Linked DNA regions of Homo sapiens. The protein of the gene in region 1 interacts with the protein of each later gene in a pairwise test. Each region holds a gene or a part of one and is shown on either strand. Other genes may lie near its edges. The genes, in order: LNPEP, SLC35E3, CGRRF1 and UNC93A.

The links.
Region 2: the proteins of LNPEP (region 1) and SLC35E3 interact in binary tests that used the Homo sapiens proteins (3 or more experiments, as listed by UniProt).
Region 3: the proteins of LNPEP (region 1) and CGRRF1 interact in binary tests that used the Homo sapiens proteins (3 or more experiments, as listed by UniProt).
Region 4: the proteins of LNPEP (region 1) and UNC93A interact in binary tests that used the Homo sapiens proteins (3 or more experiments, as listed by UniProt).

The regions. Positions count from the first base shown.
Region 1 is NC_000005.10:96,931,937-96,939,736, reverse strand, and holds the start of LNPEP (leucyl-cystinyl aminopeptidase), read right to left. Parts: upstream 3,658-7,800; 5' UTR 3,582-3,657; coding exon 3,563-3,581; intron 1-3,562. Other genes in the region: uncharacterized protein LOC124901030, read left to right, coding at 3,662-4,366. UniProt on the Homo sapiens protein: Release of an N-terminal amino acid, cleaves before cysteine, leucine as well as other amino acids. Degrades peptide hormones such as oxytocin, vasopressin and angiotensin III, and plays a role in maintaining homeostasis during pregnancy.
Region 2 is NC_000012.12:68,755,946-68,763,795, reverse strand, and holds part of SLC35E3 (solute carrier family 35 member E3), read right to left. Parts: intron 4,640-7,850; coding exon 4,557-4,639; intron 3,757-4,556; coding exon of another isoform or gene 3,711-3,756; exon of another isoform or gene 3,405-3,710; intron 1-3,404. UniProt on the Homo sapiens protein: Putative transporter.
Region 3 is NC_000014.9:54,519,421-54,527,270, reverse strand, and holds part of CGRRF1 (cell growth regulator with RING finger domain protein 1), read right to left. Parts: intron 4,818-7,850; coding exon 4,678-4,817; intron 1-4,677. UniProt on the Homo sapiens protein: Able to inhibit growth in several cell lines.
Region 4 is NC_000006.12:167,286,584-167,294,959, reverse strand, and holds the start of UNC93A (protein unc-93 homolog A), read right to left. Parts: upstream 3,646-8,376; 5' UTR 3,471-3,645; coding exon 3,384-3,470; intron 444-3,383; coding exon 262-443; intron 1-261.

The DNA.
Region 1 (7,800 bases):
CAACTGGATACCAATCTGAACATGAAAGCAAAAATAATTTTTTAAGACAACTAAGTCCTCCTTGTTTGATTATGCACCACACTGCGGTAATAAAAGTGATTCATAGGACCTACATTCATATGAAAAAAAAAACTATTTATGTTTTCAGTTCTGGGACCTCAAAATGCCAAAATACCAACCTTTAGATATACTTTAGAATATATCACAAACTAGAAAGTATATATACTTTCAGCTGGGCGCGGTGGCTCATGCCTGTAATCCCAGTACTTTGGGAGGCTAAGGTGAGCGGATCACTTGAGGTCAGGAGTTCACCTGGCCAACATGGTGAAACCTCATTTCTACTAGAAATACAAAAATTATTTGGGCATGGTGGCGGGCGCCTGTAATCCCAGCTACTCGGGAGGCTGAGGCAGGAGGATCACTTGAACCCGGGAGGCAGAGGTTGCAGTGAGCTGAGATTGTGCCACTGCACTCCAGCCTGGGCAACAGAGTGAGACTGTGTCTCAAAAAAAAAAAAAAAGAAAGTATACATACTTTCTAGTATGTATTTCATATATAATCAGACCTCCTTAATCAGATTCTGAGGGTGAACCTTAGCATTTGCATTTCTTAAGATGAATTTAAGTTTTTACAAAATATACCAACCCTGCATGCAAATGAAGACAAAAATCTGGATAAACATCAAAGAATTATTTAATCTAATATCTCTAACCAAAAAAGCAGATAGTTGCCTTCAATTTTTTTTTTTTTTTGTAATATACAAATCACTATTACTTAACAGTTTTACCTCTACCTGCCTAATAAGACATAATCATTATTGCCAAAACAATCTTAAGTACTGGTCCAGCACATCTCTCTTCATAAAAAAAGCCACCAAAGATCCAAACCCAGACCAGATGTCCAGACTTCAACATAATAGCAATCCCTCCCAAGGACAAAGCCAAAAATAGATCCTGAGCTAAATGGGAATTCCTAGCACTAAGATCCATCCTTATAAGCCCTTTCCAGGGATATGCATTTTAAATGGGTTGCAGAAGTATGTTACCTGAACAGGTTAACATAGGATATTCATCAAATGAACCAATTATCAACAGGTAGAGAGCAGGGCCCAACAAAAATAGGTCATACCAGTGGCAACTTTGGACAGAAAACAGGGAAACTACAAAAAAAACGTACTGGAATAGATGAGTATTGAAGGCTAGAGTGACAAGATATAAGCTAAATTCACTTCCTTTACAAATGCATAGGTCAGTAGATGGAACCACTGACAAGATTTTAACTAAAAGATATGTGGTCCTAAATTACTGAAACTGTTTTTTGTTAAGCTCATACACCTCTCTACATATATAGGGATACATGAAAAAGTGTAAGTGGGAAAGATTCCATTAAAAGAGGATGAACGTGTAACAAAATCCAATACCAGGCTTGATAAATCTTGCAATCATAAATTCTATGGATAATGAAATACTCTGCATCATCACACCCAGACCAATGGGAGCATTATACATGCATTATTTTTTGTACTCAAAAGGATGAAGTATATAACTGTCTACTGTACCATGTCATTTGAAAACACTAGAAAATTCTACAGCAATCCTTCAAAAGTTTTCAAATAAATACCCTGTCCATCTTAAACCTGAAAAGCACTTCAAATTGCTAACATTTAATTTCTTATTGACTGTAGATATTGTCGTTTCTGTTTTCCTTGTAAAAGGATGCTAAATAAGGCTCCAAGGAGTGATTGCTACATTAACCAAAATTATGCACTGCCAAGCTGTCTCCAGCATCAACTCTGAAAGATAGGAAAGAATCAGAAATCCAATTTCCTACATGAAAGTTGAAGCATTGCTTCTTTTTTTGTTCTCTTCTGTGGGATTTTTCCATTGTCCTCCCAAATGTGACAGTTTGCAAATACCCACATCTAGAAGCAATCTAGAAGCATATTCTATAAGAGAAAAGACACCAATTTTAAAACTTGAGAAAGTACTTTAATTCTGTAGGCAAAGGTTCAGCAAATCAGCTAGCACTAATCTTGACCAAATGGGTGAGTCAGCCTCATCACAGAGATTTTTTTTTTAATTTAGATGAAATTTCACATTTAAAAACATGGTAACTCCAAGCATTCTTCCAAAAACAAAGAATGAACATTGGAATAGTCACTTACAAGGACTTAACGACTTGTATTAAACATATTTTACACTAAAGTACTAGATGGTCTCTAGTTCATTTTAGCTCAAACCTTCCTTAATTCTTCGAGTAACTTCACCAGACTATTCTTTAAGTCTTAGTAATTACAAATAGAACCTGAATGAGAAAGAAAATTCAGAATTAAAGTTGTTATCAGTAAGCCTAATTAAACAGTGCAGACAGAAAGATGGCAGTAGAATAAAGCATTCTACATTAGGAATAGGGAGAATATAATCAGTAGTTCACAGCCCCATGAATGAAGCACAGCATACAACAAAGTCTGGCTGGGATTTGGGATAAAGTGGACAATATCTGTCTGCTCTTGAGTGGTAACTAACAAACTAAACAGGGATATAGACTGTGGCCCCTATTAATGTGATACTGTACCTGAAGTAACCAACCACACTCAGCAAAACATGTCAACCAGAGACTGAATCCTCTTTTAGTGAGTCGTCTCCCTTACTGGCAGTTTTCCTACTTTCTATCTTAAAAGGGAATCCACACACTCAACACCGCAAAACGGTAAGACATCTCACCCCTATATTGTGGCTCTGGCACTTCTGGTCCGCACAAAAGCCATGGTTCTAACTAGGGTGGGATTTATGCTCCCCGTTCAGTGAAGGGCTGTGGCTGTTTGCAGGGTGCAGGCTCCCTGCGTTGACTCTCGCTTCCTGTCACACAGTGGTATCACCACCGTGACGGACCCTTGACATTAACAAGTCTTTGACTGAAAAACTGATGTGATCTGCAGCCAGTGAGGGGATGCGTGGTGGCCCTGCCGAGTACCTCGGCAGGGTCAGGAGGGTGGCACTGTGGCCAGGCACCTCCGCGGCACCGAGCGAGGTGAGCAAGCCTTTCCTGAAGTTTCCCTTCCTTCCACAACATTAACCTGCCAAGCCTCCCACCCCCACCCCGCCCTATTAGGAAAAGTCACGCCGGCAGCTCACTGAAGGGCAGGGGGACAGCTCCTGGCGCCCCACAAAAGTTGGGCTCGGCAGCTGCCACAACTTAACGCTCCTACAGGAGAGTCGGGCCGACACCGCCTCCTCCGGGGGCAAACCTGAGCTGCCAACTTTCCCACTGCCCACTCCTCTGCGCACAGCAGCCCAAACTTTGCTGTTTGCCCACCGGCCGCACCCCGGGCGAGCGGCGGCGGCGCTGACCTTCAAGCCAGCCCCGGGTCCCGCACTGGCCGCCGCCCGCCCCCCGAACCTCCCTGCCTCCCCCAGATCCCCTCTCCCTGCCTCCCTCAGCCCTCGTGGGAAGCCCGCGGTGTTGGGGGAGACGGCTGCAGCCCGACCCCGCGTGTCACGACTGCCCACGACCCTCAGGGCTCCGGAGAGCCCGGGTCCCGGCGCCTCGGCAGCCCACTCACCATTGGTGAAGGGCTCCATTTTCCCCCCGCCGCGGCTCCTTACAGCCGGAGCGCCCGAGCTTCCTACTCCGAGAGCTGAGGCGGCCCAGCTGACTGAGCATGCCCAGCGCGGCCTCCAAGGGCTGCCAGGGAGGTGCCGCGAGGGGCGGCGCCGCTCCGCCGTTCCGGGTTTTCGTGGCAGCTGCAGAAAGAGCGAGGGAAGCAAGAGGGAAAAGCACAGTCAAACCCCCTGCTGCTCCGTGGACAGGCGAGGTGGGAGCGGGTTCGCGCTGGGGGCGGGGCCTAGGCGGGGCCGGGAAAGCCCAGCCCCTACCTGAAGTGGACCCGGCTGCGGCGCTCTCCCCGGCCGGGAACGGTGTTCAGTCACTCAACAAATGTGGAGCCCTACTGCGACCCGCCCGATCCCGGACGCCGAGACACCCGCACTGCGCCAGAAAATCATGGTCCCAGTCCCAGGAGCGGACATTCCAGAAACAGACCATAAATAAACACAGAAGACACACGAGTGTAAAGTCAGTGCCCCGCTGCGAATTAAATCGGGGTGATGTGATGGCGAGTGAGTGGGTAGTTAATTCGGATGGCTTGGTTAGACGAGGCCTCGCTGAGCAGGTGCCACTGAAGCCGAAGTCTGAAGGCAGAGCAGGAACCTGCGGGCGAAGGTCGCTATCTGAACCGCGAATCGCTGGTTTCCCTGGGGAGGTTGGCCGCGGAGGGATCACTGCTCGAAGGACCGAGGGAGCGGGCGCTGTAGGTGTTTTCGGCAGAGATGCCCGCCCGCATCAGAGTGCCTCAGGAGGGCGGTGAGGAGGAGACGGAAGAGAGGGCGGGGACCTCGCAGGGCCGAGGGCGCCCTGGGGTCCAGTCCCGGGGCTGGCGGCTGCCTTGCGGCCTCTAGGTGCGGGCGGATAACAAAACCCGGCGCCGGATCGCCCGGCCCGGGTCGCGGGCGCCGCAGGATGTGGGCAGAAGGCCCGCCTGTTCCGAGCCTTAAATCAACACCTGCGGTTCCCGGGGGTGCTACCACTGGGGCCCGCAGCAAGGCTCCGCGGCGCTAGGCCCGAGAAACCGAAACTCCCCTAGTCGCCCCTGCCCCCCAGCACTCGCGCCATTGCCTCCAGCCCCGAGCCACCATTGTTTCCAGTGCCAAATCGGGCAGCCCCGCTAGCCTCCGAGGCCGAACCGCCAGGGGCCCCATAAGCCCCGAGGAGGCTCGTCGGGAACCGCTTCCTTATCCTCTCGGTATGCGCATCGCCACCACCCTCGCTGCAGAGGCCGCCGCCCTCCCAGCGCGCCATCACCGCCTCCTCTGCCTCTTCCCCTCCCTCAGCCCCGGCCCCTGCATTGACTTGGCTCGGGCTGCGCCTCACTGCGCCTGCCAACTGTCACACGCTCTGAGGCTTTCAACAGCGGGGCGCCAGGGACAAACAAGCCGCGGCAAGCGCAAACAGCCTGCTCAAACAGGGACGGCCAGGGTGTTGTTTGACCAGCACTGGAATTGGAAACTAGGTTTCGAAGAAGTCAAATCGAAGTACAATATTGTATTTTAAACTGCCTGTTGTTATTACATCCCTCACAACGCACGCTCTACTTGAAACTTCCAGTGGATACCAACTGCACTTAGAATAAAAAATGAAACTCCTTGCCTAACTCTGGGACCTCATCAGCACATACTCACCATATTTTGGTAACAAAGGCCTTCATGCTGTTCCCGGAAGTCGCCAAGTTCCATCCATCATTGTTAATAATTCCTTTTGCTCGCTCCTCGCACAAGAACTGTTTCTTCTGCTTAGTGCTTTGCCTACTGATTCCATCTTGTCATTTAAGTCTCGGCTCAAATGTCACCTCTGCAAAGAACCCTTGTCTGACCATACATCTAAAATAGCCACAAACACTCTATAAAGACTTGGCCTTGCTTTATTTCCTTCTCAGCACTCATCACTGTCTGAAACAATGTTTTGGATTTGTTGCTTATTATCAGTCTCCCTTCTCAAGAATGCAAGCTTTGTGAGGGCAGAGTCGTAATCTTTTTTAAGGCTGTATCCCCAATGCCTGGGTAAGTATACAATAAATAATTTTTGCATGAATAAGTGAAGGACATAGTGGTGTTTAGAGTTCACTTCCACTGCTGCAAACCCTTCCAGTTAATGACTCCATACTGAATGATGTGTTTGATCAGTACAGAGAAGGTGTCTGTATCATATGATACCTCAGAGCTGCTATCTCCCTAATGTGTGAAAGGTAATCAGAACCGTTAGGCTGGCCCCTAGTACTGACATTTTAGAACCAAAAATAGTGAACCACAGGAGCTGATGTATCCCAGTTCAGATATTATATAGTACACGCAGAGCTAGATTTTGTTAACATACTTCACACATTGTATTGCTTAAATAAGACGCTCTTCTCTATATTTTAGGTCATGTCATGTTCCCTTGAAGTTCCTTTTGCAACCAAACCACTTAGTATAGGAGATATTTAAAACACTGCAGCTTGTTAAATCACCTCACCTCACTTCACCTGTAACCTACAGTCTATCATGCTTTTAAGTGTGAAACATGTTACCTTGTGTTTTGTTTTACATATCCCAACTCTGCAGAGACGTGATAAAAAAAAATGCACTAGCGAATATAGGTGGATCATTATGTCTTTTTGAGATTTCTTTGACAAAGAGACAAATGATTTCTTTGCCAACCTCTTGCCTCCCACCCCTCCCATTCCTTCACACACACAAAGACATGAAGGACCATTTAAAGACATGTAAAAATACAAAAAATAAAATTAGCCGGGAGTGGTGGCACACACCTGTAATCCCAGCTATTCCGGAGGGTGAGGCATGAGAAGCTGAGGCATGAGAATCACTTGAACCCGGGAGGCGGAGGTTGTGATGAACCAAGATCACACCACTGCACTCCAGCCTGGGCGACAGAGCAAGACTCCATCTCAAAAAAAAAAAAAAAAAAAAAAAAGACGTGGTTTTGTATAAGAAGTAAAAATAGTAAACAAACGAAATGTTTCAGAAGCCTACCTAGGAGCAAAAGAATAATAATGAAGTTTGTTTTGTTTCAACGGATACTGTTTTACATTTGACTTCATAGAGCCTTTTTGAGGGAATATGATATCACAATTTCACAACCAAAACCCATTATGTTTTTATCTTTAACACCCGCCTATCCTCCCACACAGAACTTCCTCTTTAGTTTAAGAATATGACAGTTTAAGTTATTATGAAGTTACGATTCATTATCAAAGGAGATAATGTGACATTATCTACTATACCCATCTACTGTCTTCGGAATCATTGCTCTCTACCATTTAACACTTGAAAACCATTAATTTGGAGAGTTAATTATAATACATAATAAATAGCATGACAGGAAAAAAATATAAGCACCCTGAAAAACAAATTGCATTTGTTTAAAGAACTGACAAACTTGATAATCAATGAATATAGGGATATTTTTATCAAAATAAAACACTTGGTATTCCATAGATCAGCAAATCCAAGCCTCACATTGAAACAGATAAGGAGGGAACTACTGTCTAGAGAGGGTAGAATATTTACGCACAATCCACGAGCAGACATGGACTGGAACTCAGGCCATCTGTGTTCTAAACCAGTGCTTCAGAGTTTTCTGTTGTCTCCCAGTTTCCACAAGCAAATTGGGGTCAATGACAAAAATCCACGAAAAGAATATGGAATAGAGAGAAATATAGCTAATTTCATCTATTAGAAGTCTATTCCATTAATCATTTAATTAAGATTCCAACTTAATTAGTTGATATTCCATAGGGAATTTGGATTCAGCCCTGCTAAGTGATCTTTCTAATTATTTTGAAATAAGCAACAATACATTAATTCATTGAACACATTTGAAAATGTTATTTGTTCAGCACTCGAATAAATGGAGGAAGCTGCTTCCCGCCAGGGCAAGGCTGACCATCATGAGGTTTCCGGCCACCCTAAGGACCGAAGGAGTCAATATCTCATTGCCTTTGTAACCCATTTGTAGCATACATACACTGCATTAATTAGTAATGTTTGAAGTTGTATCAAATCAAGAAATGTTTAGAGCACAGAAGAAAGCAGAATAATTATCTAATAAAGTTCAAGTAGAGCTTAGGCATTAGCAAAAAAACGCAGCCAAATAAAGTGAAAGGTTATTATTTGGAAAGAACAGTGATATACTAGTTCAGATTCCTTGGGCTACAAAAGACAAAACTCTGAGTAAAACTAGTTTAAA
Region 2 (7,850 bases), on another chromosome or scaffold:
AATACTGCCAGTAACATGCCACTGGATTAAGATTTTTCCAAATCATTGTTCATTTAAAAAGCAAACTAAATACACACACACACCATTTAAAAATTACTTGTGGCCAGGCACGGTGGCTCACGCCTCTAATCCTAATCCCAGCACTTTGGGAGGCCAAGGGGCGTGGATCACCTGAGGTCAGGAGTTCGAGACCTGCTTGACCAACATGGAGAAACCCTGTCTCTACTAATAGTACAAAATTAGCCGGGCGTGGTGGTGCATGCCTGTAATACCGGCTACTCGGGAGGCTGAGGCAGGAGAATCGCTTGAACCTGGGAGGCGGAGGTTGCAGTGAGCCGAGATCACACCATTGCACTCCAGCCTGGGCAACAAGAGCGAAACTCCATCACACAGACACAGACACAGACACAGACACACACACACACACACAATTACTTATATTTAAATATAACTATTTTTTCTATATAAATGAGTACTCTCTTGTTCTTCAGATGTATGATGTTTGCCTATGTGCTTTTCCTAACTACAACACTAGAAACAGCCACCACTCTGTGCATTAGTTTCCTCACTATATAAAAGGGGTTTACCTCCCACGGTTATTGTAAGGATTAAATAAGTTAATATACACAAAGCTTCTAGCATATAGTAAGCACCATATGTGCTAGCTATAATAACATTACCAACAGCAGTACTTATGTATCATAAACACCTGCTTGGTGCTTGACACATTCTCTCAAATACAACCACCCAACATCATAGATCGTACTTCCTCCACTTCATACATTTCATAAGTGATCAGAGTGAGACCCTGAGAGTTCCCACACTAGTCAGGCCCACAGAGAGTGGCAGAGCTCAGTGTTCACACCTGGACCTGTCTGACCTCCAAGCCCACCTAAGCAGCCTGGAGGTTCCCGCTGGGCAGCAGCAGTGCCTCAGGAGAGCACAGGCTGCGTCACCAGGGGCATATGGTGGCTTGATCCCATGAAGGTGACTTCCTGAGACACAGAGGATCTTCCCAAGGTTGTTGGCAATAGTCATAATGTTTTATTTTCAATTATGAGCTATCTTCATGTGCACTGGCTCTAACACTTTAAATTTCTTTACTCCTCAGCTTCTCTTTTAAGTATATTTATACGAGAAGGAAGTCAAATTTAAAGAAACTATTTATGAATCCTTTTGTAAAAGCAACAACAAAAGAGCAGTCTACATGTGGTATTTCCAGTTCTGCACTTTACTCCAGGCAGGCTGTCACCCCAACCCCAACCCACTTTACTCCAGGCAGAATGTTCTGGTCAAACCCAGTGCCCTCCACCTCACTCAGTCCCTCAATGGTGACCAGTCTCCTTGAACTTGGCCTGCCAGCGGCATCTGACACAGACACCGACCCCGCCTCCTCCTCCTTCCTCTGGTTCTGTGCCAGTCTCCTCCTTCCTTCCACCTCTGACTGCTCCTTCTCATCCTCCACCTAGTTTCTCATCTCTCTGAATTCCAAATACTGGACTCAAACCCAACACTCAGTCTTTGGACTTATTTTCTTCTACTTGTCTGCTTGGTAATCTCAACTAGTCTCATCACTTTAAACCACAGCTTCATACTGCTCACTCCCTGTGATGCCTCCTGCTGAGACGTCACCTTTGAACCCTGACTTGTTTATCCAAAACTGAGCACCTGGCTGGGCACGGTGGCTCACACCTGTAATCCCAGCACTTTGGAAGGCTGAGGTGGGAAGAATGCTTGAGCCCAACAGTTTGAGGTTGCAGTGAACCATGATCGCGCCACTTCACTCCAGCCTGGGTGACAGAGCAAGACCCTGTCTCAAAAACAACAACAACAAAATACTCCCCGAACTGAGCACCTTATCTTCCTCCCCAGCCCCAAACCTCCTTCTGGGTATCCTATCTTAGTTGATGGCAACTCCATTCTACCAGGTGCTCAGGTCAAAAACCATGTAAATCAGCCTTGTTTTCTCTTTCTCCACATCCAACTCGGCAGCAAAACCTGTTGGCTCTTCTTAGAAATATTTCCAGAATCCAATCACTTCTTACTATATCCACTGCTATCATACTGGTAGCCACTATTACTTCTAAATTAGAATATCGTAGCAGTCTCCTGAGTTTCCTGTGCCTCTTTCAGTCCAGTAGTTCTCAACCATGGGTGATTCTGCTTTGTGGGCAATCTTTGGAGGCATTTTTGGTTGTCACAACTGGGCAAAGGGTATGTATGCTACTGGCATCTGGTGGTAGAGCCCAGGCCTGCTGAAAACATCCTACAGTGTACTAAACAGGCCTGCACTAAGAACCGTCTAGCCCAAAAAGTCAACAGCCCAGAGGTTGAGAAATCCTTCTTAAGTCTATTCTCAACACAGGAGTCCTGAGTGATTCTATGATTTATTTTATTTTAAAAAACTTTTTGTAGAGACAGGGTCTTACTATGTTGCCCAGACTGGTCTCGAACTCCTGGGCTCAAGGGATCCTCCTGTCTTGGCCTTCCAAAGTGTTGGAATGACAGGTGTGCCATTGTGCCCGGCCCACTGAGTGCTTCTATTAGAATGTATGTAAAATCATGTTACTTCTCTGCTCAAAATGCTAATGGCTTCCCATCTTACTCAGTTTAATAGTCCTTACATAAACGCCCTACTCAATTCAGTTCTGTGTTACTTCTCAGCCTACCACATTCCCTCCTTTGCTCAACCTGCTCTAACCACACAGGCTTCCTTGGTTTTTTTACGGCCTCGCACCTGCTGTTGCCTCTGCCTGGAATGTTCTTTCCTCCTGATCTGCATGGAGCAACTGCATTTCCTTCAGGTCTTTACTCAAATGTCGTCTTCCCACTGATGCCTTCCTGACTAGCCCTGCCTAGAACTTCAATGCTGTCTATGACATTTCACATTCTCTTCCCCGCTTTATTTTTACTCCTTGGCAGTTAACACTATCCAACACTGTATATAAATATTTAATTGTTTTCTATTTCTAGTCTTCCTCACCAGAATTCAAGCCTGTGAGAGCAAAGACTTTTGTCTATGTGGTTCATTACTGTATCCCCTGTGCCTGGCACACAGTAGATGTTCAGTATATAAATATTTTTATATCAATGACTGGTTTAGTGGGTATTCAATAAATACTTATTGAATAAATTAATGTTTTAAATCAGAGCACATATTTGGATGCCTTGATTGGGTAGTATGATGTACAAATTTGGGGACTAGACTGCATGGGTTCAAATCTGGACATCCCATTTGTCAGCTGTGTGCCTTAAGTGAGTTGGTTAACCTCTCTGTGCCTCTATTTTTTCTATAAACAAAAATGACAGACTTTACCTCACAGAGCTGCTGTGAGAATTAAATGGACTAATACATACAAAATGTTTCTAACAGTGTCTGACACAAAATAAATATTTGTTAAGTATTGGTTTTCTAAAAAACTTATCGTTGTTGTTTTTTATTGATAGTTGGCAAATATCCTACTTGTTTACTTCCTGGGGAAATTCATTTGTTGCATTTGCCTAAGGGTGGGGGCAGAGTGAAATGTGAAGAGAAACAGGATGACAAGCAGAATGGTACAAATGGACAGTTGAATTTGACCTTTAACATATAACTTCATTTCTATTTTTTCTTTTTTTGGTAGAGATAGGTTCTCCCTATGTTGCCCAGGCTGGTCTCGAACTCTTGGGCTCAAGCGATCCTCCTGCCTCGGCCTCCCACAGTGTTGGAATTACAGGCGTGAGCCATGGCACCCGGCCAATGACTTCATTTCTTGACTTGAAATAATATTGAGAAAAACAGGCACACCCATATCCAAATAAGTACAAACACATACTCCATAGCCAGATGCCAGTGGCCTGAAATTATCTTTTGTTATTTGTTAACCATTCCTCTACTTTGTTACTAGAAATACCTGAAAATTGTTTGAAAATCCAAACCTCCACCTCACTATTCATTCAAAAAATATTTAATCTCACTGTCTGTAAGAAATGGTACTCTGAGTTAATTTTTGTAAGGGAAAAGGTCACCTATTACATAAGAAAATTCAGAAACATTCATGACACAAAAAGCTAACCCACTTCCTCAGTTCATATTTCTTTTTTTTTTTTTTTAAGACAGAGTCTTGCTCTGTTGCCCAGGCTGGAGTACAGTGGCACAATCTCAGCTCACTGTAACCTCCGACTCCCCAGTTCAAGCAATTCTTGTGCCTCAGCCTCCTGAGTAGCTGGGATTACAGGCGTGCACCACCTTACCCAGCTAATTTATATATTTTTTGTAGAGACGGGGTTTCACCATGTTATCCAGGCTGGTCTTGAACTCCTGGCCTTAAGCGATTCACCCGCCTCGGCCTCCTGAAGTGTTGGGATTACAGGTGTGAGCCACCACACTTGCCCCTTCAGTTCATATTTCTTTAAAATCCTTTAGTGGGTAAAGATACAGTAAAAGGCTAAAAATAACTCTCTCTACTCAATTTAGGCCATGCAATAGTTAGTGTGAGATTCAAATAAGGTAATGAATGTAAAAGTTTTGGAAAATATAAAAGACGATGCATTTCTAAGTTATATGAAAAGGATACGTGACAGGTGAAGTGTTCCCAATGATCCAATAAATTGATAAGTTCACCATGAAAGCTATTACTCCAGATAGCAGCACCATAAGCTACAAATAAACCAAAAGAACCATTAATGCAAAGCACTGCAATCATAATCATCAAGCAAAGATACATTTCATTCGGCATTTTAAAAAATTCAAATATCAACCATTAATAAATAAGATTAGAAAGAGAGGGCCGGGCGCGGTGGCTCACGCCTGTAATCCCAGCACTTTGGGAGGCCAAGGCGGGCGGATCACGAGGTCAGGAGATCGAGACCATGGTGAAACCCCATCTCTACTAAAAATATAAAAAATTTGCTGGGCGCAGTGGCGGGCGCCTGTAGTCCCAGCTACTTGGGAGGCTGAGGCAGGAGAATGGCATGAACCTGGAAGGTGGAGCTTGCAGTGAGCCGAGATCACGCCACTGCACTCCAGCCTGGGCGACAGAGTAAGACTCCATCTCAAAAAAAAAAAAAAAAAAAAAAAAAAAAAAGAAAGAGAATTTGGGGTTGGGAGACAGTAAGAATTGCAAGTAAAAAAGCAGAATGAACCGTGTTTAGAAAAAACGTAATTTTTTCCACAAGAATCAACGAAAAATACTGCAATAACATCCTTTCTGTGATTGTGAATTTCCAGGTTCATTTTTCTTATTAATCTAAAGAAAAAGTATACATATGCATTATTATTATTGTACATCAGACAATAAAGAAAAGCAAAAAGAATATAAGGAATTCTTATAATCCCAACCACCCACACATTAACATCTCGGCATACCTCCTTCGAGATCTTTTTCTTTTTTTTTTGAGACGGAGTTTCACTCTGTCACCCAGGCTGGAGTGCAGTGGCACGATCTGGGCTCACTGCAACCTCCACCCTCCAGATTCAAATGATTCTCCTTCCTCATTCTCCTGAGTAGCTGGGACTACAGGCGCCTGCCACTGCGCCCGGCTAATTTTTTGTATTTTTAGTAGAGATGGGTTTCACCATCTTGGCCAGGCTGGTCTTGAACTCCTGACCTCATGATCCACCCACCTCGGCCTCCCAAAGTGCTGGGATTACAGGCGTGAGCCACTGCACCCGGCCGAGATCTTTTTCTATTAAATTGCTCATTTTTATTCTTTTTTTTTTTTTGAGATGGAGTCTCATTCTGTCGCCTAGTCTAGAGTGCAGTGGTGCAATCTTGACTCACTGCAACTTCTGCCTCCCAGGTTCAAGTGATTCTTCTGCCTCAGCCTCCCCAGTAGCTGGGATTACAGGCCCATGCCACCACACCCACCTAATTTTTTTTGAATTTTTTGGTAGAGATGGGGTTTCACCATGTTGGCCAGGCTGGTCTCGAACTCCTGACCTCAGGTGATCTGCACCCCTTGGCCTCCCAAAGTGCTGGGATTACAGGCCTGAGCCACTGCACCTGGCCTCATTTTTATTCTTATTTAACTCAATAAGCATTCATTGGATATCTACAAAGTTAGGCCAGGCCTTCTGAGGAACGCAGTATGTACAAAGTTCCTGCCCTCAAAGAGCTTAGAAACTACTTGAGGACATAATAAAAATCATGATGATCACTGCTTACACTTACATAACACTTATTATGCACCAATAATTGTTCTGTTTTACATGTATTCACTTATTTAATTTTCACATACATCCACAAAGTAGTTGTAAAAATATTATTCCTTTTTATAGATAACTTGGCTGGGCACAGGGGGACAAATGGGTTGGACCACTATATACACATACAAAGTTCTGTTCAAATCTATCCCATAATTTTATCCAAAAAGTTATAGAATCATTTTGTTTCTGAATTTAGATAAAATGATATTCATGATATAAACTATTAAGAAGTTTAAGTTCCAAAGAAAACTTAAACTTGATACTTGGCACATCATTAAAAACACAATTACTCTACTTTGTTAGGGTCTTTGTTACGGACTTTGAAGAATATAAAGAAGCTAGTTCCACGTTGAAGAGGAGTGGTAAGAGTGGGCATCCTTGTCTTGTTCCAGTTCTCAGAGGGAATGCTTTCAACTTTTCCCCATTCAGTATTATGTTGGCTGAGGGTCTGTCATAGACGGCTTTTATTAAATTAAGGTATGTCCTTTGTATGCCGATTTTGCCAAGGGTTTTAATCATAAAGCGATGCTGAATTTTGTCAAATGCTCTTTCTGCATCTATTGAGATGATCATGCCATTATTTATTTATTTATTTATTTGGAGTCTCACTCTGTCGCCCAGGCTGGAGTGCAGTGGCACGATCTCGGCTCACTGCAAGCTCCGCCTCGCGGGTTCACGCCATTCTCCCGCCTCAGCGTCCCAAGTAGCTGAGACTACAGGCACCAGCCACCACGCCCAGCTAATTTTGTTTTTGTATTTTTAGTAGAGACGGGGTTTCACCGTGTTAGCCAGGATGGTCTCGGCTAGTCTCAATCTCCTGACTTCGTGATCCGCCCGCCCTGACCTCCCAAATTGCTGGGATTACAGGGGTGAGCCACTGCGCCTGGCCGATCATGTGATTTTTGTTTTTAATTCTGTTTACATAGTGTATCACATTTATTGACTTTTGTATGTTAAACCATCCCCACATCCCTGGTATGAAACCCACTTGATCATGGTGGATTATCTTTTTGATACGTCATTAGATTCAGTTAGCTAGTATTTTGTTAGGGATTTTAGCATCTATGTTCATCAAGGATATTGGTCTTTAGTTTTCTTTTTTGGTTGTGTCCTTTCCTGGTTTTGGTATTAGGGTAATGCTGGCTTCATATGGAAAAAAAAAAAAAAAGTTGAGTTGACACAATCCTCTACTTTGAGTCAAGGATGCCTCCTAGGGACATTAAGGAATGAAGATGACTTTCCTTCACACTAAATGGCCTCAGCCTGCTGTGGTCTTGGTTTCTTTGCCTTTTTTTTTTTTTTTTTTTAATGGCTTTTCTGCTGCTGTCCTCATTTTAAAACCTGTTAGAAGGCTACGAAAAAAATCCTCTCTCCTTGTAGTATAAGGTCTCTAGGCTGCAATGGTTTGAAACCAGATAACCAGGATGGCTAGGACTTTTGCAAAGTGGAAATATTATCTGATAGATGGTCCAATGACCTCTACTTTAGAAAAAAAGTGTATATGGTAAAATATATAAATTTGAAATAACTACTGGTCTACTTAGGGGAAGCAGAGCGGAGCACTGGAGAACACAGACTTTGGACCCAGAAGGCATGTATCCAAATTGTGTTTCTGCTTATTAGCTGTGGGATTGCGAGCCAGTTACTAACTCTTTATCTCTCG
Region 3 (7,850 bases), on another chromosome or scaffold:
TGTCAGTACCCCCATCAAAACTATTCTCCCTTTACCTTTTCCACTTTTTTTTTTGCAAAGAGTTTCAATTTTTATGTATTTTTTTGCCTTCTAAAACTCAGTACACACATGACATCACTTTAGATCAATAGCATTAACAGAATTGGGACGTAGCTGTAAGAAAATTCAGAATCAAAATAAGTGAAGCACATGGGTGTGGTATCTCTCAAACTGTCCTTACCCAGACTATCTATAACAAGCAAATAAAGCGGAGTGTAAGAGACAGCCTTGCAAAAAAGTGAAAAAAATAAGGACTGTAGAAAATATGCTAAGCCACTAAAAAGGGAGAAATGATGGGGCGGAAAAGCCACAAACCTTCTTGAGGAAGGATCCCTGTGAGAGAAGCAGTAATAAAACAAGGAGACCATTCATGAGGATAATAAAGCCAGAGTATTGGGAGATGAAAGTTTTAGGTTGTAGAGAATGGAGGTTCACAAACGCCTCCAAACATGCCATGTACATTGTGTTTTTTTCTAACCCTTTTGCTTTAATGTTAGCTCTTACCAGAGTGAATAAGCTAAAATATAAGGAAGCTATTTACAAAAAGCAGAATTCCTGAATCAAATTAATTCAACTCAACTTATATACACTGAGTATCTAACTTTCAATTTCATTAAAGACTCTATATTGGAGACATGGAAACGCAAATCCAAATATATCATTACATAATAACAACAACAAAAAAATCCCAGCAACCCACCCCTAGTAAACAGAACTAAATGACTCAGATTAAAATCGATTCTCTGGTTTTCTTTTTTTTTTAATTATAAATTTTAAAATATGGCCAGGGCGCAGTGGCTCACACTTGTAATCCCAGCACTTTGGGAGGCCGAGGTGGGCAGATCATGAGGTCAAGAGATTGAGACCATCCTGGATAACACGGTGAAACCCTGTCTCTACTAAAAATACAAAAAATTAGCTGGGCATGGTGGCATGCACCTGTAGTCCCTGCTACTCAGGAGGCTAAGGGAGGAGAATTGCTTGAACCTGGGAGGCAGACGTTGCAGTGAGCCAAGATTGCACCACTGCACTCTAGCCTGGGCGACAGAGCGAGACTCCGTCTCAAAAAAAAAAAAAAAAAAAAAAATCTTAAATATAAATAAAAAGCATGTGTGTTTTTTTGTTTTTGTTTTTTGAGACAGGGTCTCACTCTGTTGCCCAGGCTGGAGTGCAGTGGCATGATCTCAGCTCACTGCAGCCTCAACCTCCCAGACTTAAGCAATCCTCCAGCCTAAGCCTCCTGAGTAGCCGGCACTAACAGGCATGTGCCACCACGCCCAGCTAATTTTTGTATTTTTAGTAGAGATGAGGTTTCGCCATGTTGGCCAGGCTGGTCTTGAACTCCTGGACTCAAGGATCCGCCCGTCTCAGCCTCCCAGAGTACTGGGATTACAAGCATGAGCCACCACGTGCAGCCTCTGGTTTATTTTCAAGTTAAATCAGGTCTCTAGATTATTCACCCTCTTCTGCTATATGTCAGGCAGTTTGGGTACAGTGGTGAAAAAAAGATTTTTAAACTATCTACACATCAAATGAAATAACTTTTTTAAATGTCACAAATATTGTTACAATATTATTTTAATGTTCTGTATAGACATCTTTAATGATACCCACTTTTCCACAGTTTAAACAAATGAATTTTACTCTGTTGAGTATAACTCCTATCAAAATCCTTCTATTTCCCCATAGGAGAAAGATAATAAATGATATGCATCGGTATTTTAAAAATTAAAATATTTCAGTATTCATGCTGTACATCCACACATTTAAATAATTTTTCATGACTTCAGTAATACTACTGTTGGTTAGCAACTAGTGTGCAGGCATAGCTAAGAGGGCTACTTACTGGCTATCTTTTCATTTGCCTCAAACATTCGCAAGGCTGGTTCTATTTGTGACTATTTCTGCCTGAAAAGCAGATTGATGGATTTCCTCACACTTTCTGCCTCACAAGTGCCCTGTGTTTTGCTCACAATGTATCAGCTCTTCTTAGTTTTTCAGTGTATTTTCAGACCTGTGGAACTGTACTGCAGGAAGGAAGGCCTTGCAGCTGGTAGGTTTTTCATTGCGGGTCCTGCTCAAGAGCCAGATGTGACATTGTAGCAGGTTCTAGCCTATGGCCACAGAGGTGGGAGGTTATTGAACCACCACTATGCTGTACACTTGATTTTTTATTTTATTTTTTGAGACAGAGTCTCACTCTGTCACCCAGGCTGAAGTGAAGTGGTGTGATCACGGCTTACTGCAACCTCGACCTCCTGGACTCAAGCAATCCTCCCACCTCATCCTCCCGAGTAGCTGGTAGCTGGGTGTACACTTTAATCAGGCATGCACAACCTACTATCTTTTAAACAAATTAGTTTTATCTGTGTCATATCTCAAAATTTGGTTTTCTCAAGTAAAAAATATCAGAATGAACTGTTATCTATTATAGGGAAGGAGCGGGGAGGGGAGTGGCCGAGATCCTAGTTTCCATCAATTCATAGGGTAATAGTATTTACAGCTAAAGAGGATGAATAAGAAATTTTGTACTTTTTGGGGCCAAGAACAGTGGGTCACGCCTGTAATCCCAGCACTTTGTGAGCCTGGGGCAGAAGGACTGCTTGAGGCCAGAAGTTTGAGACCAGCCTGGGCAACACAGCAAGACCCCATCTCCACAAAAAACATTTTTTTTTTTATTTAGCCAGGCACGGTCATGCACACCTGTAGTCCCAGCTACTCAGGGGGCTGAGGCAGGAGGACCACTTGAGCCCAGGGTATTGGGGCTGCAGTGAGGTATGATCATACTACTGCATTCCAGCCTGGGTGGAAGAGCAAGAGCCTGTCTCGAAAAAAAAAAAAAAAAACATATATTTTTCCTTACAAATCAAGATTTACTTAAGCCTGATGATCTATTTGACTAAGTAAACTGATTTCTGACCAGTTATTAGATTCTGAGAGTTAGAGGCAGGAAAGATGAATAGACAAGAATGGTCCATAGACGCAAGGGAGCAGGACGTTGCAAATGAAGGTCAACTCTGTAAAATACTAGAGAGAGAGCATTAACTCAGCCCTGAAAGGCTCCCACTGGATTTGATGACTGCTGGGGGTCAAAAGTGCAGGGCAGAAGTCGTAATTAGTGACCTCAGAGAAAGCCATTTCAGTAAAGGGATACAGGGAAAAGTCAGACTGCACTGCACTGAGGAGTAAAAATGAAGCAGGCTAAGAGAAGGAAAATGCAAACAGCTTCTAAGAAGCTGGCTGTGAGGGGAAGAAGAGAAATACGGCAGTAGCTAGACTAGGATGAAAAGCAGAGAAAGATCTGGCTTATTTGTTTTCAAGAAACCAGAAATGTAAGCAAGTATAGAAGGGACAGGGTCTCGGCCCAGAAAAAAAGCTACAGAACTGTATCTAGGACTGCCTACTCTTTATTTCTATTGAACTGTCACGAAAGAATTTCAAAGTCCAAAAGTTCAAAATTGAATTCATTGCCTTTCTTTGGAAACTTGCTATTCTTTCTGTACTCCTCATTTTTCTAACAGGATCTGGCTATGGAGGACCCATAGGAAGAACCTGAGTCTTCTTAGACTCCTCTGTTACCTGTCCCATCCTATGCTTTAGCCATAACTACTGTTTCTTTAATGTATCACTCCATTTCTCATCCACGAAGTAAACACCTATCTTCCAAGATTCTACTCAAAAAAAAAAAAGGAGGAAGGAATAAAGAAAAAAAAAGTAAGAGAGACTCAGCATATTCTTTTTTATGAAGGCTTTCCTGAATATGCCTCTTCACCTTAACAAATTTAAGCATCTCTTTCTTTACAATTCTAATGGTTCCTATATGGTCCTGCAGACAACTTATTTTTCCAAGCAAGTACAAAAGCAAACAACTGCCATCTATTACCTACCATCTACAAAAGAACATGTTATATCAAAATAATTTATACCAAAATACCATAGTTTCAGATTAAATGACAATCATTCTGGCCGCGCGCAGTGGCTCACACCTGTAATCCCAGCACTTTGGGAGGCTGAGGTGGGTGGATCATCTGAGGTCAGGAGTTTGAGACCAGCCTGGTCAACATGGTGAAACACTGTCTCTACTAAAAAAACAAAAATTAGCCAGGTGTGGTGGTGCATGCCTGTAATCTCAGTGACTTGGGAGGCTGAGGCAGGAGAATCGCTTGAACCCGGGAGGTGGAGGCTGTAGTGAGCCGAGATTGTGCCATTGCACTCCAGCCTGGATGACAGAGTAAGAATCTGTCTCAAAAAAAATAAAAAGGCAATTGTTCCTCAAAAGGTTAGCAACCTTACGTTAACTGTATTTAGACATAACACATCATTTCTCACTTTACTACAGACCAATAAAAATGGCATAGTGTCCTAAGAGACTTCACTATTAACACCTGTAATACTTCATTCTACTCCTTTGTATACACATCTACCTCTGTTTACTAGGTGATAAATTCTTCAGGAGTAAAGTTTGTAACTTCTTAATCTTTGTATCTGTCATATACAGTACAGCACCTGGAACAACATAGTTGCCCAACAAATGTTTGTTAAAAGTCTAATGAAGGGAAAGAAATAGAGAAAGAAAATAAAAGGGCTAAAAAAAGAGGGCAAACAATGAGAGAAAATCTTTGGAAAACAGCCACCAACTTGTAATTGAAGCTGAAGATGGATTAGTGATCTCTAAGCCAAAAGGATTCTTGACTTGTCTCATTTGCTTTTTGAAAACTCTTGTGCTGAACTGGGTCTCTTCTGAATTTCTCAGAATTACTGGAACATCCCAACCAAACCTAAAAAAAGGTAAAAAATAAAATATTATTTTAACAAATGTTGAAACTTTATGTTATGTGTAAAATCTGTTGTGCTTCATTAGCGATTCCTTTTAGCATTAAGTGTCAGAAAGAGGTTAAATTTCTCAATTTACGTTATTTTAGAGATCCCACAGAACTGCAAAACAGTTGGCCCTCTGTATGAACCAAGTGCACATCAAAAATATTTGGGGACGAGGGGGAAGAATAAAAAATAACAATAAAAAATACTACAAATTCAAAACCAATACAGTATAACAACTGTTTACACAGCATTTACATTAGGTGTAAGTAATCTAGAGATAATTTGAAGTGTACAGAAGGACGTGTGTAGGTTATATGCAAATACTATGTAATGTTATATAAGGGACTTAAGCATCCTAGAATATGGGGGGTGGGTATCCTAGAATCAATCCCCCTCAGATATCAAGGAAGGACTAGGTATTGTTCAGCTGGCTGAATCAACACATTCTTGAAAACAAAGAGTTCTATTGTTAATACTGTTGATAACACCAAAGGAGTATGGAGATTATAGATAAATTATACTTAATTTAACAGCAAACACATGATGAACTTATTGAATTTTTTTAAATGTGAAAAAGAAATATATATTCAAGAGGCAGACTATTGGCCGGGTGTGGTGGCTCATGCCTGTAATCCCAGCACTTTGGGAGGCCAAGGTGGGAGGATCACTTGAGGTCAGGAGTTCGAGACCAGCCTGGCCAAAACATAGTGAAACCCTGTCATTAATAAAAATACAAAAATTAGCTGGGCATGGTGGCGTGGACCTGTAGACCCAGCTACTTGGGAAGCTGAGGCAGGAGACTGGCTTGAACCCGGAAGGCAGAGGTTGCAGTGAGCCGAGATCGTGCCACTGGACTCCAGCCTGGGCAACAGAGCAAGATTTCGTCTCTCAAAAGAAAAAAGAGGCAGACTAATATGATTTATGGGACAACGGAACTTTTTTTTTTTTTGAGATGGAGTTTCATTCTTGTTGCCCAGGCTGGAGTGCAATGGCGTGATCTTGGCTCACTATAACCTCTGCCTCCCGGGTTAAAGCAATTCTCCTGCCTCAGCCTCCCAAGTAGCTGAGATTACAGGCATGTGCCACCATGCCCAGGTAATTTTTGTATTTTTAGTAGAGACGGGGTTTCACCATATTGACCAGGCTGGTCTCGAACTCCTGACCTTAGGTGATCCGCCCACCTCAGCCTCCCAAAGTGCTGGGATTACAGGCGTGAGCCACCATACCCAGCCAGGACAATGGAACTTTTAAAACACCAACTATAGCTCTTCATTTATATATCTTCTACTTTTAAATTTCATGTAAAAATGTAAACTCTGACAATGCCCATGGAACAGAATTAAAAGGAAAATGAAAGGGGCTAAATTCAATTCCCAATAAAATTAAAAAACAGCTACTTTACTCAATTTACATAAAATAATCTAAAATTAATACACACCAGTTAAACTAGGAAATTTTAGTTAAAGACGGCACAGTTAGGAGCCTATTTGATGCACTCCCTTCTCTCCAAATACATATCAGTGATAGATAAAAAAGAAAAAGAAAAATTAAAAAGACCCCACAGATACCTGAGTCCCATATGCTTTAAGAAAAAAGAAAGACTCCGCTGAAATGAGTAAACAAACTGTGGTATATTTAAAGAAAAGAATAGAAGTATTCAGCAGTGAAAAGGAACAACTTATTACTACAATCAAATGGATAAATTTCAGAAACATCGTGCTATGCAAAAGAAGCCTTACACAAAAGAATAAATGCTGTATCCTTCTCTAATATAAAATTCTAGAGCAGGCACAACAAATTTATGGTAGAAATAAAAATGAGAACAATGGTTGCTTCCGGAAGTACAGGAGTAGGACTGACTGGGAAAGAGCATAAGAAAATTGACGGTAACGTTCAGTATCTTGACAGAGGCTTAAGCTGTATAGATGATGTGTTTGATAACACTTGGTAAATGGTACACTTAAGATTTGTACATCTTGGCCGGGTGCGGTGGCTCACACCTGTAATCCCAGCACTTTGGGAGGCCGAGGCGGATGGATCATGAGGCCAGGAGATCGAGACCGTCCTGATTAACACAGTGAAATCCCGTCTCTACTAAAAATACACACACACACACATACACACACACACACAAATTAGCCAGGCGTGGTGGTGGGCGCCTGCAGTCCCAGCTACTCGGGAGGCTGAAGCAGGAGAATGGCGTGAACCTGGGAGTCTGAGCTTGCAGTGAGCCAAGATCGCGCCATTGCACTCCAGCCTGAGCGACAGAGCAAGACTCCATCTCAAAAAAAATAAATAAATAAAAAATAAGATTTGTGTATCTTATATGTAAATGTTACTTCAAAAAACTATAAACGAAAACAAACACTGAACTCTAATCAGTAATATGTAATGTTTTAGAACTTACAGGTGAAGAGTACAACTCACTTTGAAGGGCATCGTGAAATAAGATAGACCAATGTATGGATAAAAGAGTGGATTAATGTGGACAGATATGTAATAGAGAAATTACAGTAAAATGCTGATTGTAGAATCTAAGTGATGGGCAGATGTGTGTTCACTGTGTAATTCTTTCTAGTATTCTGTATGTTTGAAAATTTTTATAATAAAATGCTGGGAACAAATACCTTTATGGATCCAAAAAAAGCAAAGAAACAAAGTAATGAGTAAGGCTATGCCATGGTTTCATGGTTCTCAGTCTGGCAGCAGACAGTGGCAACCAAGCCTTCATGTACTAAGGAGACCAGCATAGGCTGTCTTCTCCAGACAAGGGCCAGAGCCAGGTTTATAACTTGGAACCAGGAGCTGGATTAGGTCAATACAAAAATACGCAGAACTGTCGTTATAAGACTTGGTCCTAGGCTGGGTGCACTGGCTCCTGCCCATAATCCCAGAACTTTGGGAGGCTGAGGAGGGAGGAATGCTTGAGCCCAGGAGTTCGACACCAGTCTGGGCAACAATAGCGAGACCCCATCTCTACAAAAAAAAAA
Region 4 (8,376 bases), on another chromosome or scaffold:
CCCAGGGAGAGGCCAGCATCGGGGATCGGGAGGAGGAGACAGAAGCAGTGGGGGGCACAGAGGAGCCTTGGTGGGAAAACAGGAAGGAAGCCCAGCACCGTCTGTCACCAAAGCGAGGCGGGGGTGCAGGGGCAGGAGAGCTCATTTTAAAATGCCTGCAGTGAACAGTAATCAGGTGCAAATGCAACTCATGTGCAGAGTGAACGTCCCTAGCGTGGGGAACGGCCGGGGTGGGGTGGGCAGGGGGTGGTGGCTGCGTACCAGCTGGCGAAGAAGTTGCCCACGGAGAAGGCCACGTAGCCACACATGGAGAGGATGATGGTCCCCTTGCAGCCCAGCCTCTCGATGAGGAGCGGTGGGAGGAACATGGAGGACAGGAGCATGCCTCCATAGAGGGTGCTGAGCGCTGTGACACCCAGGCCCTCCTCGCTGTACAGGCTGCTCTGTGGGAACAAAGCCAGCCCTGTCAGAGCACAGGATGGACACAGCGGGATGAGGCACCAGCAGGTCCTCAGTGTCCCCCAGGCTGGAGGCCGCCACAGCTCCCAGGAACCGCCAGCCACAGGCTTGCTGCCCTGGGAGCCTCCTCTGAAGCTGGTGGGAGAAAAGTGCAGGTGAATTCGGAATAAAGCAGTTAGTGTGTCTAAACATCAGGGAGTGAAGGCCCGGCACCCCTGTGAGTGCTTGCGCCGGGGCTGGATGGCTGTGAGAGCCGCTCACGCCTCTGTGGACACCTGCCTGAATCTCAGCTGAGAACAGGACAGTGTGACAGGATGGGGCTGGAGACTCTGCCAGAACTCATCTGTGAGGAGCCTGCGTGCTCCCAGGGAATGTAAGGGGTCCTTCAGCCCATGGGGAGGCCCGAAGGATATGAAGCAGCTGAGTGCACATGAATGATTTCTTCCTTCACCAAATATCCATCGCCCGCCTCCGAGTGCCCGTCACTGTCTAAGGTTTGAGAATGGACCAGGGACGTGGCCCTCGTATCCTGGAAACTGCAGGCCGCCACCACTGGTGGAGACAACCCGGGCAGGCACACACCGCCACGAGGGTGCTGGGTGCCCCATCCAGACCTCAGCTCCAGGGCAGGGTGGGGAGAAGGAGGTGACCTCCAAGTTGAGAGCTGAATGAGAACTTGGAGGCCTGCAGCCAGAAAGGGTGAAAGGAGGTGGTGGCTACAGGGGGAGGTGCCACAAAAGAGCGTCCTTTGTCCTTGGACGAGGGGACCTAGTCCAGACCAGGGTGAGGACTCAGGAGAACTCTCTGGAATGAGGCCCTGTCTTCTCACTGGGGCTGCTGAGCTCTGAGGAGGGAGCCTGGGGATGCATGTGCCTTGTTGGGGCCTGAGAGCGAAGCCAACCCCATAGTAGCCTTGGGGTTCTTGGAGAGAGGTGGGCTCGGCTCCTCAGCATGCTGGGGCAAAACCAATCCTGAGTCACTTCTATCTGAACACTCTGTGTTGCCCATGCCAGTCCTGAGTAGCAGAGACAGCTGTCCCAGTTAGAGGGTTAAAGCACGTCCGCATGCTCAAGGTCAGCTGCCGACAATAGGCCCGGGTGGGGCCTCGAACCAGGGTGGAGCTGGAGTGGAGGGGACCCTTCCACAGTCCTGGGGCCCTGCAGAGAGGGAGGTCTGGCTCCCCTGCATCTCCAGTCTTTTGAGAAGGAAGGGCTGACATCATGAGACAGCAGCTCCCACTTCCACCAGCCCAGGAGGAGTGGGAAGTGCTGGCGGGGCGTGGGACAATCTACTCCCCAGGCAGCTGCTCACAGCTGCGGAGCTCATCCAGATGCCACCATGAGTGATTCCCCAATGAGGCACCCCCAAACTGGGGCTGAAGAGGCAAAGGGTTGTCTGCCCGCATTTGCCCACAGCCTTGGGTCCTGCCGTCACAGCCTGAGAGGAGGGACCCCTGGCAGCTCCCAGCCCCCTCCAGCCCCCTTCCTCTGGCTTCCAAGTCCAGAGGCCAATTTTCAGACAGTGGCTGAGCCACAGCGGATCCACCAGAACTGGTTCCTAGGAATGCTGACCCCAGGGGAGCTGTCGGTTCCTAGGAATGCTGACCCCAGGGGAGCTGCTGTGCCAGGAGGACAGCAGGGTCTCCTTCTGCAGGCAGGTGAGCTTTCTAAAGAGAAAGGGCTACTGACCAGTCCACATCCTTGAGACTCCCTCCTTCCAGAAAGTGCACACCAACCACATTCAACATGCACTCACCTCAACCCAACAGGCATTTCACTCACACCAGCATTCTGTGACAACAACACAAAGTTCTGGGCAAAGCAGGGACTCCAAAAGTAATGAACCATTGCGGCAAGAAAAGAGACTGTGTTCCCTTCCACTTGACTTTGAGAGTCACTGTTGGCTGCCATTTTATCCTCTGTAAGCCTGATCAGAAATAGAACCAGATAGGAGTTCAGCAAAAGGAAACATTACTTGAGAATTCAGGACTGAATTCCAGCTTCCTTGGCAACCCAGGAGTCCCAAGTGTTTGCACAACAACAGTGAGAGGAGAAACCTCGGATTCTGAGTTCCCAGGTGTGCTTTTCTGGTTCCATACTATGCACACAGTAGGTGCCCAATTCTTATTCTTCATTGACGAACCATGTAAGACCACACTAATTTGTCATCAGAAGCTCTGAAATGTTTTATGTGACCACACCAGGCCACAGGGTACAACACTGTGGCAATGAATAAGCCGGGGGAGTAACAATAGCCCTGCTTCCTGACCAGCCCTTGGAATTCCCTGGAATTCAGACTGGAATCCAGGTAAAGATCAGACTTGAAATGTAACCAGCTTGGGAAAATGTGTCAGGTCTATGTCTAGGTGCACATGATGAATGCTGCAGCCTTTCGGAGAATGCCGTTTGGCTTTTTCATGGGCTCACGGAACTATGGAGGAGAGCATGCCATAAGGAGTTCAAAGTATAGAGAGATCATGTTGTCAAAGTTCACAGTTTAGCTTAGAGTAGGCTTGGAATGTATAAGGTCTAGTGACATTTGATAAATTCACATGGCTGCCCCTAACCACAAAGCCAAGGGCATCCAATCAATCATAGAATTCACAATGACTTTTCCTGTGTCTCCTTTTAACCACCCAAAGGCAAAGAATGTCCCAACAAATCACAGTCCCAAGACCCCTGCTGTCCTTGTCCAAGAGCAACGTGCACCTCGCTGTTGTGCAATCCTATTGAGACGTGAGTGGGAACTGCTCACTGTAGGACTGCATCTGAGAACCACTGTTTGTTTTAGAGGATTTGGTACAGAGTGAAAAAGAAACACCAGGTGAATTAGATTTTTCAAATTTCCAATTCATTATTGTCTGTGACCACAGGGATTCTTGGAGGCCAAGAAGTTCAGGTAATTTGATGACCGGACACACATACCTGCAGGCTCTGCAGACCTCCATAGGCTGTAAAGAGAAGCAGGAACCCAAAGGAAACCACAAGGACGTTCCTTAGACTTCTGTCCATTGTGCTGGATGAAAAGATCAATCACCAGTGAACACGTAAATTTGTAGCTCCCTAAAAGAAACCAATTGAGGCATGGGAAAAACAATCAGTACCAAGAAGTCCCATTCTCTCTCTCATCTGAGCTAGAGGTGAAATGTTAGAGGTGTGTTAGTCATTAAGACTGTCACTCGTTAATGAACTTGGTTATCACTGACCCCATGAAGCATACGGGAGCTCTGTTACTCATTTACCTTCTCTGTGATCCACAATGTCCACTTTGTATGGGGCAAAAGATCATTACTCTTACCAGCTTCTAGTTAATTGCGCTTTTTTCCTATTAAATTCTAATAGACATGGTCCAGATGGTAAAGTGATATGTTTCACTTTTTATGTGTATATAGAATAGAACCTTCCACAGTAAGAGAAACTGTCAGAAGTTGTCAGTGGTGCAGAATGAGGACTTCAGTCTTAAAGAACAAAGCATAAATGTCAACTTCAAGACACATAGTTCAACTTCTGAAAAAGAGCTAACGTGATTGTAAGATCCTGGGGCCAAAGTCTTAGTATTGCAAAGACTGTACAGTTTCACAACACAGTACAGCAATTATTAAAAGAAAAAACAACTTACATGAGTATAGTACTTTACAATATGCAAAGAATTTCATGCATTATTTCATGTTACCAACAATAGTGCTATGCTAATGATCATTAGAAATCTTAGACCCATTATAAGACAGGAAACAGCTTCAGAAAAGTTAAATGATTTGGTATTTTGGTCTGGGGCAGTGTTGTCCAGTATGGTAGCCACTCGCCACATGTGACTATTGAGTTCTGAAATGTGGCAAGTGCAACTGATAAAATGAGTTCACAACTGCATCTCCTTTTAGTTAATTACAATTAAAATTTAACCACATGTGGCTAGAGACAACTGTATTAGACGGGGTAAGTCTGGAGCTTTAAGCAACTTACCACAAATGTCATAGCTAATAAGCAAGAAAAATTATTTTTATTCAATTATAAGTAAAACTTGATGTCTGCAGATTGTTTCCAAAGTTCTGTGAAGTCAGCCATTTCTGTCTAGATTAGATCTATAAGGCAAATCTCGCAGGTAAGTCTAGCATCCTGGCAACACTACTCAGGGAAGCTTGCCAGACCATCAGAAGATCAGGGCCAATGATAAATGGGGTAAAGTTCTTGTCACTTAATGTATTTCAGTGAAAATGAAAGTTTTATGAAAACAATAGCTTTTTATATTAACTAAACATGGACTATCATGCTTACATAGACATAAGAGCCACGCAGTCTAGCAAAGGGATTCTGAGCATGGAAACAGATGAGCTCCACGGGTTCACACCCTAATCCTGTAATTTGTTAGCTAGGTGATCTCAGGTGGGTCACTGAGTCACCGAACCTGTTTCCTCTTTAAAAAGGAGGGTTGCAAAAGTTCAAGACTTGGATAATTTTGAAAGCCCCTAGAACAGCACCCGATATATAGCAAAAATGTTAACTTCAAGATACATATATGGTTCAACTTCACCAATAAATGTTATCACCAATAAATGTTAATTGACTAAGATGATATTTTGACTTTCAGAGACAATACAAATTAGAATAATATGTAAAGAAATTAGCATAATGTGGACTTCTTCATACTAACCGTGTTATCGATCAATCAACTTGGACCTTATTTTTATTTTTTGGCAACACTTTAGTTTACTTCAGTTCTGGCCTCTCATTAGTTCCCATGGATGACCTGTATTTTGATATTAGAGGACCTTCCTGATGTTTTATTGCACTGTCTGCTGGTCTTTCTCCCTTGGTTGCTTCAACTCACCAGCCCCATCCTCTAGGACTCGCTCTCTGGCTCTGGGGGCTGTTTCCAGAGGCTGCTCTTCCCCTCCCCTTCACCAGCCTATGCCTTCTAAGGAGCTTCCCTTTGTGCACAAATAAACCTGGTCTGTTTCCATCCTTCCCAGCCACACCCTCCCTGTCCCTCCAGCACTTCTACTAGGATTGAATTTCTGAAACCATGGCTTCAGTTACGTCTGCTTTTTCTCTCTTTTCCTCCCAGTTCCTCCCCTTTATCTATGTTAAAAGGGATTTTTTTTAAATGAACAGTATATTTCACTCTCTGCCTTTTCTCTGTAGCAGAATAAAATGCTTCTCTTAGAGGAGATAATTCCCAGCACCCCTCAGTGTTCCTGTGACCAGGGCAGGTCTTAGACATGGTCCCCCAGTGGTCTCGTCATAAACAAAGGGACACTCTTATCTTACCCGACCCCTGAGGCTGCCTTCCCGCAGCCTACACATTCCTGCAGACATGGAGTTGCCTGAGGGAAGAGAGTGCAACCTCTAGAAACCCAGAGCTGGCTTGGCTCTCAGAGCTGGTTTTGGCGTTATGAGCTCTGTGTGTGCACTGGAGCCATGGCCTGGCCCAGGGCTGACCTGCCAAAGGCCAAAGACGGGTACGTGTAAAGGATTTAAAAGGTGTCAATAGCCACTTCAGTCCTTAAAATTAACATCTGGGCTCTATCAGCTTGAGAAAAGAGGTGGTTCTGTAGATCTGCTCGAATCTGCAGGTCACTCATTGGACGTTAAAATGACAGATGCCCTGGGTGATACAAAGCTCAGAGCACGCGTGTTCCGGAAAACCGAGACTTCACCAGCCACTAGATGGCACCGTTTTGCTACGGCTGAGTTCACCACAGGCGCCATGCGTTCTTCATGCTGTAGAATCACCTTGTAAATCACCAAACTTCCTGCCAAGAATCTAAAGATTAATTTAAGGGAAGTCTACCCAATGGTTTGCTTTTTTAAGGAATGTACTCATGTAAGCAAATTAATATCAATTTTCTTGACATTTACATCTGAAATCTTTGTTAATAAAAGCAATACCAAATAAACTCAAATGTATCTTACATCTTTTTATCCACATAAAGATGAAGAAGGTATCTATAGGGAGTAGAATGAGTTCTTGGCTACTTTAGGGAATTTCACACTTTGGAAATAAATGTACTCATGCTGTGTGTGTGTGTGTGTGTGTGTGTGTGTGTGTGTGTGTAAGGAAGAACAATTTGTGCTAACACAACCATGGCTTGAGAGAGTATTTTCTCTTAGCAAATGTTCCAAAGCATCTTAAATCTTGGCGGGGGCTGACCACTCCGCCTTCCCCTGGCTAGACAGGCCACCTCCTGAGCTGAGCGGGCATTCGGGGCTCTGGCTTCTTCCTCGGCCAAGGAGAACCCAGAGAGCCAATCAGAGAAAAAGCTTTGGGGCCAGTTGGCTATGTCAGGCCCTCAGCCAAGACCCTTAGCTAATTTCCATTACTTATCAGAGAGGGCAGAGACCCATCGTGTGGCAAGCCTGGCTGGAAATACTCCCATCCTCACACCATTTGTGAATCCTCCCAGCTTCCACGGTGTGGTTAAAGCTGCTGGTGATGTCCTGGGATTCTGGGTCTTTCTCTCAGCCCACGTCTCCACCTGGGACATGTGAGTGGCCTGACCACCCAGCCAAGACCGTCAAGGGCCTGCAGGGTCCCTGAACAACAGCATCTGATTGGGCTAAGGCACCCTCATTTTGCACCAGAATGAAGGAGAGCAGCAGCTCTGTGATTGATCACCGTCTTCCACTCTCCCTGTCAGGGCGGCAACGCTAGGTGAGCCCGAGTGCGGAGAATCTGGCCTGTTCCACTCTCATAGTCAGGGGGATCGTGTAGGTCCTGGTTCAGAACACACTCATGTGCACAGTGCACACACACACACACACGCATGCACACACGCATGCACACACACACATATGCACACACATGCACACACACACACACCCTTTTTATTTTCCAAGTTCGTAGGTCCTTTTCCTTTCCCATGAGCCCTCTGCAGCCTGGGATACAGCACCCACTTCTACAGTCGTCCACACTATTTATTGAGCGTCTACCCTGGGCCAGGCATCCTTCCTAATGTACTGGGGTACCACACTGATAAAAGGGCCAGGGGTCTCCATTCTCACAGAAGCCTAGTTCTAGTGGAGGAACCAAACAGTGAACAACTAAGCAAAATAGAGAACTGAAATTCCCATGGAGAGAAGAAGTGCGATCCCAAAACTAGAGCAGGTGGGACGATAGGGAGTATGGGGTGGTACACACGCTATCCACACCCCATCTCCACACGGGCGGCAGAGCAGTGTCCAGCTTTGGAGAGAGCAGCTCGGCTGGACCCAAGCATCACCAGGTCTGCAGCTCAGCAGCCGTTTCTATGAACCCTGCAAACTGGAGCAAGTGGCACTTTGGGTGGAAAAGATCCAGCTGAGTGCAGCGAGCAGTGGAGGAAGCCGGGCTGTGATTGGACAGCTGAGGGCCAAGTATGGCTATGATTGGACAGCTGAGAGCCAAATACGGCTGTGATTGGATAGCCGAGGAAGCCGGGCTGTGATTGTACAGCCGAGAGCCAACCACTTACATGTCTTCTAAGCCTGGATGAGGGGCAGAAAGTGCTGATTATGCTGGAATTTTTTTTTTTTTTTTTTTTTTTTTTTGAGACAGAGTCTTGCTCTGTCGCCCAGGCTGGAGTGCAGTGGCGCGATCTTGGCTCACTGCAACATCCGCCTCCCGGGTTCAAGCAATTCTCCTGCCTCAGCCTCCCGAGTAGCTGGGATTACAGGCACCCGCCACCACACCCAGCTAATTTTTTGTATTTCAGTAGAGACGGGGTTTCACCGTGTTGCCCAGGCTGGTCACGAACTCTTGAGCTCAGGCAATCCGCCCGCCTCGGCCTCCCAAAGTGCTGGGATTAAAGACTTGAGCCACAGCACCCGGCTGATGCTTGAATTTTCTAGGTATTTTTTCTATCAATTATTTTTGTCTATACAGACAAAGATACAGTGATGGGAAATTACGCCCAAAAATCTCCAAAGATAATTTCGTGCCTTT